Regions from separate parts of the Homo sapiens genome. Here region 2 is linked to region 1. Evidence: fine-mapped expression QTL. A gene starts in region 1. The other region holds a variant in brackets. All regions are shown on one strand. Distances are between the middles of the regions. Region 1 holds the start of HDHD5 (haloacid dehalogenase like hydrolase domain containing 5). Region 2 holds the start of TMEM121B (transmembrane protein 121B).

Region 1 (4,375 bases):
ACCTGGGAGGCAGAGGTTGCAGTGGACCGAGATGGCGCCACTGCACTCCAGCCCGGGCAACAGAGCTAGACACCGTCTCACACACATACACACACACACACACACACACACACACAAAAGAAAAAAGCTATGGAACAATGATATAAATGAAGATATATTTAGTACAGCTGTACAATGTGTTGTGTTTTAAACTAAGTGCTATTACAAAAGAGTAAAAAATTTTAAAAATTAAAAACTTGGTAAAGCAAGAAAGTTAAACTAAGGTTAATTTTCTTTTTTTTTTTTTTTGATAAGAGTCAGGATCTGTTGCCCGGGCTGGAGTGCAATGGCCCGATCTCCGCTCACCGCAACCTCCCTCCCAGGTTCAAGGGCTTCTCCTGCCTCAGCCTCCCGAGTAGCTGGGATTACAAGTAATAGATCCATTACATAGATGGGGAAACTGAGCTTGGAAAGCTATGTAAATTGCCTTAAGTGAAGCCGCTAACAGACTGCACAGGATTCAATTCTAAAGCTCGTGCTCAAACTCTGTCATCCTGCATTCTTCTTTTTCTGCTCTACCGGAAGAGTCACTTGGAGACATTTCGGGACTCTGCAGAGATGCTAGAGCCAATACAACAGTTATAAATAAGGGCGATATTTCCTTATATTTATATCCTGACAGTTTGTAAGTCCTTTTATCAACATATTCTAATTTCAAACTTCCACCTTGGTCACGTCTAGCTATGTGACACTGGCCAAGTCACTCAGCTGCTTTGAACCTTAGCTGCTCCATATTTAAAAATCATAAAAATAATACAGCTGTTAAGAGCTTAGACTCTGGCACCAGACTACCTGAGTTCCAGATTCTGCCACTTACCAGCTGTGTGCCCTTGGGTAAGCTGCTTAACCTCTCTGTGCCTCTGCTCCATCTATAAAATGGGAAGACTAATAATAGTACTTTCCTCGGAGTTGTTATAAAGATTATACGAATAACTGTGAAGTACTTAGAATAGTGCCTGGCACAAAGTAAGCACTATGTGTTTTTTTCATGCAAGTAATTTGGCCGGGTGCACTGGCTCATGCCTGTAATCTCACCACTCTGGGAGGCCAAGATGTGAGGATCATCTGAGGTCAAAAGTTCGAGACCAGCCTGGCCAACATGGTGAAACCCTGTCTCTACTAAAAATACAAAAATTAGCCGGATGTGGTGGCGGGTGCCTGTAATCCCAGCTACTCGGGAGGCTGAGACAGAAGAATCGCTTGAACCCGGGAGGCGGAGGTTGCAGTGAGCAGAGATTGCGCCACTGCACTCCAACCTGGTGACAGAGATGCCGTCTAAAAAAAAAAAATGCAAGGATTACTGTGAAATCCGTATGTTAATGTAAAATATTACTTGTGCGTTTAGAAGACAAAGTGATTCCTTTTTCCAGAAAAGGCAAAACGGCCCAAGGGAGCGTGAGAGCCGTGGATCTGACCAACCTGGTTTAGTGTCCTGTGCCGTCTCCCAGCTGCAGGACCTGAGAAAACGTACTTGAAAACTCGTCAAGCTTCGGCTTCCTGACCACACAAGGTCACACCTTCTCAGAAGTTGCGGGGAGGCTCACACATCACTACCGCGCCGGGCACACAGCAGGCGCCGGCTCCAGCCCTCCTGCTCCCGCCCGCGGAGCCTCCAGCGCTCAGTCGAGGTCACAGCGAGCTGAACTGAACCCAAGGCCCGCACCAAACCCACAGGCACTTGGGGGCGGAGCACCCGCAGGCGCGGCTCCCGGCGCGCGGCCCAGTTTCCTCCACATGCAGATGAAAATCACGACCCAAACGTCCTCATGGTGGAAATCAGAAGACGCGCAGGGAAAACAGGGACGCGGAAACTGCCGGGAAGCGCAGGGGCTGACAAGCAGCCTGGCCCAGGCCGTCCCACGAGCGCTCTCCCGCGGGAGTAGCGTTTCCGAGGCCGCCAGCGAGTCAGAGGAAGGCAGGGCGCATCCGCCCTCCAGCAAGAACGCGATGCACTCGGGCGCGACGACGGTCCAGGCAGTTCCCAGGAGGCTGGGATACCAGCCCGGCCGCCCCTCCTTCCCCGCGGCTCCCCGCCCCGCCTCCGGCCCTGAGTGGCGAGTGGCTCGGCCAGAACCCGGACGTCCTCACCTGAGCGGGGCCCACAGCATAGCACCTGCGGGCGGGGCGGCCCTGGAGCCCCGCAGCCGCGCGCGCCGCCCGCCAGCAAAGCCCACGCGCCGCGCCGAGCGCAGCCACACAGCCCCACGCAGCCATCCGGCCGTCGCCGTGCGCACGTGCACGGCGTGCGGCCCCCCCCCCCCGCGAGTCCGTCCGCTGCACAGCCAATCAGCGGTCGGCGCGCGCGGCATCACGGGAGTTGTAGTCCTGTAAGCGCGCGGAGCCCGTCGGGCGCCTATGGAACTCGACCCGCAGGCCAAAGGGGCTCCGTTGCAAGGAAGAAGTGCGGGGTCCCGCCGCCTCCTAGACCGAGATCGCGGTGAGCTGGCCGCGGCGCACAATGGGCACGGCCTGGGCGGCGGCGTCCGTACTATCGCCCTGTGCCTGCGGATCCCGGTAACATTGCGCGGCAGGCCCCAGGCCGGCCTCCCTCAGCTTCGCGGACTGTCTGGGCCGGGGGTCTCAACCTTGACTTCAGGGCCGGGCCGCTGGGGCAGACCCTTAGTGATGTTCAGGTCCTCTGGGCCCCTGCCAGTCAAGGGACGCTCGTCGCGCGCCAATTGTTAAGTCTTTCATTGTTTCTGTAAACCTGCTGACGCCCTCCCAGCGCATAGGGAGACTGCGCACGTGAGTCCGCCCCCGCGCGCACTGCGGAGAGGTAGAGGCACGAATGTAGTACAAGGTACAAAATGACTACTCCAGAGAGGGCCAGATGACTAAGTCAGCAAACACTTAGGGAACACGACTGTGTCCGCTGCGCGTTTCCCGGAGTAGACACAAGGGTGAATGAACAAAGAATGGATTTCGGTCACTGAAAGTGGAGAGGTAGCCGACTCCGTCCGTGGAGGCCCTTAGCAGAGCTGGATCTGGTAGTCCCCCGGTCATGAGGGGAGATTCTGCTGGAGGAAAGAGGTCTCCATTCCCACCGTTTGAAATGTGTAGGATGCCCTCAGATTCTTTGGCCCATTCATAGGTATAGCTATGCTAAAAACGCGGGACCCTACAATGTACTTAGCACTAGCAGAGAGGGAGTCGAGGATATGGACAGAGACTGCACTAGCTCACACATTAGCAGGCCAGGGTGCGGTGGCTCACCCCTGTAATCCCAGAACTTTGGAAGGTCAAGGTGGGAGGAAAACTTGAGTCCAGGAGTTCCAGACCAGCCTGGGCAACATAGGGAGACCCCTTCTCTATTTTAAAAATAATAAAATAGGGCCGGGTGCGGTGGCTCACACCTGTAATCCCAGCACTTTGGGAGACTGAGGCGAGTGGATCAGGAGGTCAGGGGTTCAAGACCACCTAGCCAAGATGGTGAAACCCCGTCTCTGCTGAAAACTGCAAAAATTAGCCAGGCGCGGTGGCAGGCGCCTCAAGTCCCAGCTACTCGGGAGGCTGAGGCAGGAGAATCGCTTGAACCCAGGCAGCAGAAGTTGCAGTGAGCCGAGATTGCGCCAATGCACTCCAGCCTGGGTGACGGAGTGAGACTCCGTCTTGAAAAAAAAAAAAATAATAATAATAATAATAAAATGAAGAAGTAGTTAGCGGTGTCCTTTGGTCCTCAGCTTTGAAGGGCAAGATCTTAATTCAGTTCAACTACAGCTAATCAGAATTTGGAAGACTAATTCAAGTCAGTCAAACTCACAATAGCCCGACACTTAAACCCTGCCAGGGGACATAGCTCTCTAGGATTGCAATGTTCCTAATCCCTTCCTTCTATTAAACTACCTAGAAACTGATTTAGTCATTAGAAATTTCTTGGTATGATGGCTTTTAAACATGCCCACAGTTTTTTTTGACAATCGGCTCCTCAAAAGCATAGCCAGGCGCGGTGGCTCACACCTGTAATCCCAGCACTTTGGGAGGCCAAGTCAGGCGGATCATCTGAGATCAGGAGTTCAAGACCAGCCTGGCCAACATGGCGAAACCCGTCTCTACTAAAAATACAAAAATTAGCTCGTCATGCACCTGTAATCCCAGCTACTTGGGAAGCTGAGGCAGGAGAATCGCTTGAACCTGGGAGGTGGAGGTTGCAGTGAGCTGAGAGCGTGCCACTGTACTCGAGCCTGGGCAACAGAGTGAGACTCTATCTCAAAAAAAAAAAAAAAAGAAAGAAGAAAAAAAGGCCGGTCACAGTGGCTCATGCCTGTAATCCCAGCACTTTGGGAGGCCGAGGTAGGTGGATCATCTGAGGTCAGGAGTTCGTGACCAGCCTGGCCAA
Region 2 (4,375 bases), 39 kb before region 1:
AACGTAAGAAGGGAGAAGGGGAAACAAAAATTCTTCAAGTTTCACCCCCACCACATCCTGTTGAGGGTGGAGGGAAGTGAGTATTTCCTGGCCTTGTTAGCTGCTGTCCTCCTGCACCCTTAAAATATGTAAAAATACTTATCCTGCCTCAAAGACTGCAAGAGTGACATTCCACACCGACTGTAAGTGCACAGTCCCCGGATGTCTCTTGTCATCACCCTCAATGAGAGGAAGAGGGAAAGTTCTGCAGCCTGCCTTGGCCCTAGTGAGACTCTTAACCAGACCAGAGGTGGGAGGTCACCACCTCACTTTCTGATCTACACTTCCTAGAGGAAGGACAGGTGGGGAATGGGGCTTCCTACTCCCTTGGGCCCATGGGAGGCCCAACTTCACATCCATCCAGGAAACCCACCAAAGCTATTACTCTAAGCCCAGATCCGACCCAGTCGGCACCAAACCACAGGAAGGATAAGAGTTCTAGGTGCAGAGGGAGGAACAGAGAGAGGCCAAGCCAATGGCTGATACTCCGCAGACCCTGTAATAACACTGGCACCAAACCCCAGCTGGAGCCAGTGGCCATGGCAAATGCAACTTCTGAGTATTTTGTCTTCATTTTTTGCAAGCAGCATCAGTGCATGATGCAACAAAAGTTGAAAGCACGGAGGTAGAAATGCTCACTCACCCAAGAAAGGGTGCAGTTTGGTCCTTAGAGAATGGATCCCCTCCTCTCCCTGAGCTGAGAAGAGAGGAGCAGTATTGAGGAAGATCCTGGGTGAGATTCTCCCTTCAAGGGGAGTACCTGGGCAGCTCCCAGGGGCCCAGCTCTTCCTGGGAATTCATGGTCACAAATCCAGGCAGAAAAGAGGAGGGTGGTGATAAGTATGGTGTAGGGGGCAGGGCCTCCCCAGATCTCCTACCCATTGCAAAGGGCCACAGGGTGGACACGAGAAAACAACACTACACACACAGAGACATACACTTTGTATCTATCACCTGGAAGAAATCCAAGAGACACATCAGTGGAAAGTGGGTTCTGGGTCAATTTCAAGGCATGGGACAATGGCCACTAACCACAGCCTAAAAGAGGCTGGCACTTCTAAGCAAGGGAGAAGGTCCAAGGCCCAGCACCCCTCTCCTCCTAATGGATGGGAATTAGAGTGGAGGTGGGCAAAGCAAGAAGCAGAGGTACCAGCCCCTTGGAGGTCAGGATTGGGGTAGGATAGGAGAAGAGAGGAGAGGGTAAGTGCACCTACCTCCCTCACCGTTAACTGCTGGTCTCCCTCCAAGCCGTCCTCACCCCAGGGTGCAGAAGAACACCCTGGCCCTTAGCCCTGAAAAGGGTTACCTCTTCCAAATAGACCCTGATCAAATCTAGGTGACAGAAGGTAGAAGACAAGGGGGTTGGGGACTCTCAACCCAAAAACAAGGACCCGTGCCCTTCACCCTCAATTCTGAGAGGCCACAGCCAGGGTGTTGACATAGCCATGAGCACCCCCCTCGTTCTCCGAGATGCAGTGGCCCAGCTGGGAGCCTCCCTGAGGTGGTGGCGGAGGTGGTGGAGGGGCGGAGGGCGGAGCACCGTAGCCCCCTCTGGCCCGACTCGGGGAGGCCCGATTGCCCCGGTCCCAGCAGCCCTCCAGGGCCTCCAGGCCCCGGCAGCCGAGGAAGAAGAGGTTCTTGAGCATGAAGATGGAGAGGGGCTGCTGGTAGCTGACCACCAGGAGGCAGCGCAGCGCCAGCAAGGGCACGTCCACCAGGCAGCCGCCCAGCAGGCGCAGAAGGCGGCTGCAGCTGCCAGGCCCGGAGGCCTGGCCCCAGGATGCAGCCGCTGCGGCC[G/A]CGGCGTTGAGCTCGTAGAGCCAGAGCACCGGCGAGGCGAGGGTGAGGAAGTAGACGGCGATAAGCAGGTAGCGCAGGTGCGCGGGCAGCGGCACGCGGCCCTCCAGCATCAGCTCCACCAGCGTGAAGCTGTCGAGCAGGTCCAAGCACGTGCCCAGGAAGCATCCGGCCGCGCGGTGCCGCTGGGGCTGCAGCAGCAGGGGTCCTGCCGATCCCGGGGGCGCGCCCGCCTCGCTGATGGCCCGCACCAAGCTGTAGAGCAGGGGCACCGACAGCGCCATGGTGAGACGGAAGCCCGTGGTGCCGAAGGGCGCGCGTAGCTCGATGAGGTCTAGGATGGACGTGCCCAGGATCAGCACCACCTTGGGAGTGAAGGCGATGGAGTAGATAAGCCAGGCCAGGTAGGCGAAGGCGAACTCGCCCGCTGCCGCGGCCGCCCCCAGGCCGCCCCCCGCGCCGCCGGCGCCCCCGCGGGCTCCGCGTGCCTTGGCCCCAGCGGTAGCGGCCGAGGGGGCGGGCAGATGCAGGGGCGGCGCGGCGTGGTGGTGGTGCAGGTGGTGGTTGTGCGCGCCGCTGGCTGCGCCGCCCCGACGGCCCCGGCTGTTCTTGGCGAAGAAGATGGCCCAGCCCACCACCACCACCAGGTCAGTGGCGATCCAGGAGCACCAGTACAGGTCGGTGACGGCGATGAGGTACAGGTCCAGCAGGCCGCCCTGCGCCAGCAGCAGCACCACGGACAGCGCCTGGTAGCCCCAGCGGCACCTGGGACTGGGGGCGCAGCCGCGGCGCCGACCTCTGCGGCCGGGGCGGTCTGGGCAGCCGCAGCAGCAGCAACACGGGCAGCAGGAGGCGCCGCTGCCGGTCCCGGTGCCGCCCGCGCCCCCCGCCGAGCGGCTCCCGGGGCCCCCGACGGCCCCGGCCGCGGCGCCCCCGCCGAAGTCCGCGGCTGTCATGCTGCAGGAGGAGGTGGGCGTGGAGGTGGAGGAGGAGGTGGCCGCTGAGGAGGAGAAGGCGACAGGCGCGGGGCCGGCGGGGGCGCCCACCTGAGCCGGCGGCCCCAGGAGCGCGGCGTTGGGCACCAGCGGCTTGCTGACGCTGAGGCTCTCGTCGTCGTCCTCGCGCTCGGCGCCCGTGCTGCTGCTCGGGGAGCCGCCGCCCCCGCCGCGTCTGCCGCCGCCTCCCCCGCGGCTGGTGCTGGTGCTGGTGCTGCTGTCGCCGGAGCCTCTCCGGCCGCGGAAGGAGCCCCCGCGGAGGAAGAGGGGCTGCAGCCGGGCGGCTGCCGGGGGCGGCGGGAAGGAACCGGACGCGGAGGAGACCGAGCGAGGGTGGCCGAGCGCCGGGCGCATTGTCCTCCGAGGGGCTCTGGGGCCGCCCAGCTGTTCCCTCCCCGCCAACCCCGGGCGGGCGAGGCGGGCTAGGCGGCCGAGGGGAGCCGGGGCCCGCCGCCTCCCCAGCAGTGGGGACTCGCACCTGGGCCGGGCGGCGGCGAGATCCGGACTGGAGCCACTGGACTGGGCGAGCCGGGCCGGGCGGCAGGGAGAGGGGGCAGGCGGTGAACCGAGCGGACCGCGGTGAAGACAGGCGAGGCGGGGGCGGGGCGGGGCGGGGCGGGGAGCGAGTCCCGCCGGGAGGGAGGGAGGCTGGCGGCGGGGAAACCAGGACTGGATTCGAGGGGGAGAGGAAGCAGCGAGACCAGAGGAGGAGAAAGCGCGGCGCGCTGGATCAACGGGAAGAGAAGGGGCGGGGGTGCAGTGCGTCACAGTCGGGTCGGGAGCCCTGTGGCCTGGAGGAAGCGGGAGGAGGCGCGGGCAGCCGCCAGGGCGAGGCGACCCGGTGCGGGGGGACTCCCATGGAGCGCGGACTCCTAAGGAAGTCGCTGGGAATCCCACCGGCTGTACCGCAGGGCGTTAGTACCTAGATGGCTTCGGTGCCCCCAAGCGATGGGCTCAAGCTACAGGGCGGGCTTTGCACCTGGCCTTCTCAGCTCTGAGGCAGGCAGTGGGCAGCTTCGCCTCCACCCTCCGTCCAGCGCCCTTCCCATGGGGCCATCCGCCTCTCCCTAAGGCACTAAAAACCAGTGGAGGAGTCAGGCCATGTTGGCAAAAAGGGCTCGGGCAGCAGCCCCAGACCTATAGTCCTAAATATCCATGTACCCAGCCCTGGGGTCGCGAGCCATCTCAGGGACGACCCGATTCCAGCGGATGGAGAAGTTCCCTGAAAACACCTGCCTGGGAGGAGAGACGAGGGAACGAGATTGGGCAAGTGGCATCCGCCCAGCGGGCTTCTCAAAGGTTTTTAAAGCAGAATGGGACGTAATAGGAAGATGTGTCTAGCAGAGAGTAAAATAAAGGGGCATTTAGAGGTGTGGGCACCTGGATGAAAACAAAGGCTCCAAAGGGATGATGGTGAGGGTTACAGCCCACCACAGTAGACAGAGACACCAAGGAAGGAATGCAGTCAGTGGCCCTGCGTAGACAGTCTCAGGAGAGAGCACACCAGCTCACCCCAGGACTCATCCAAGGCTGGGGATGGATGTCGA

The links.
Region 2: its variant is fine-mapped to the expression of HDHD5 in whole blood (TOPMed, PIP above 0.99).

What each region holds. Positions count from the first base shown.
Region 1 is chr22:17,156,999-17,161,373 of GRCh38, forward strand. It overlaps HDHD5 (haloacid dehalogenase like hydrolase domain containing 5), which reads right to left and starts at 2,279. Exons shown (of 8, transcript NM_033070.3): 1 at 2,128-2,279. The coding sequence starts at 2,253. It overlaps HDHD5-AS1 (HDHD5 antisense RNA 1), which reads left to right and starts at 2,391. Exons shown (of 2, transcript NR_024483.1): 1 at 2,391-2,839. RefSeq lists a silencer at 1,961-2,290.
Region 2 is chr22:17,117,946-17,122,320 of GRCh38, forward strand. TMEM121B (transmembrane protein 121B) reads right to left here and starts at 3,415. Exons shown (of 1, transcript NM_031890.4): 1 at 1-3,415. The coding sequence starts at 3,182. The coding sequence ends at 1,446. LINC01664 (long intergenic non-protein coding RNA 1664) reads left to right here and starts at 3,650. Exons shown (of 4, transcript NR_103793.1): 1 at 3,650-4,094. RefSeq lists a silencer at 3,127-3,256 and an enhancer at 3,842-4,373. The variant G/A (reference allele first, on the strand shown) is at 1,837.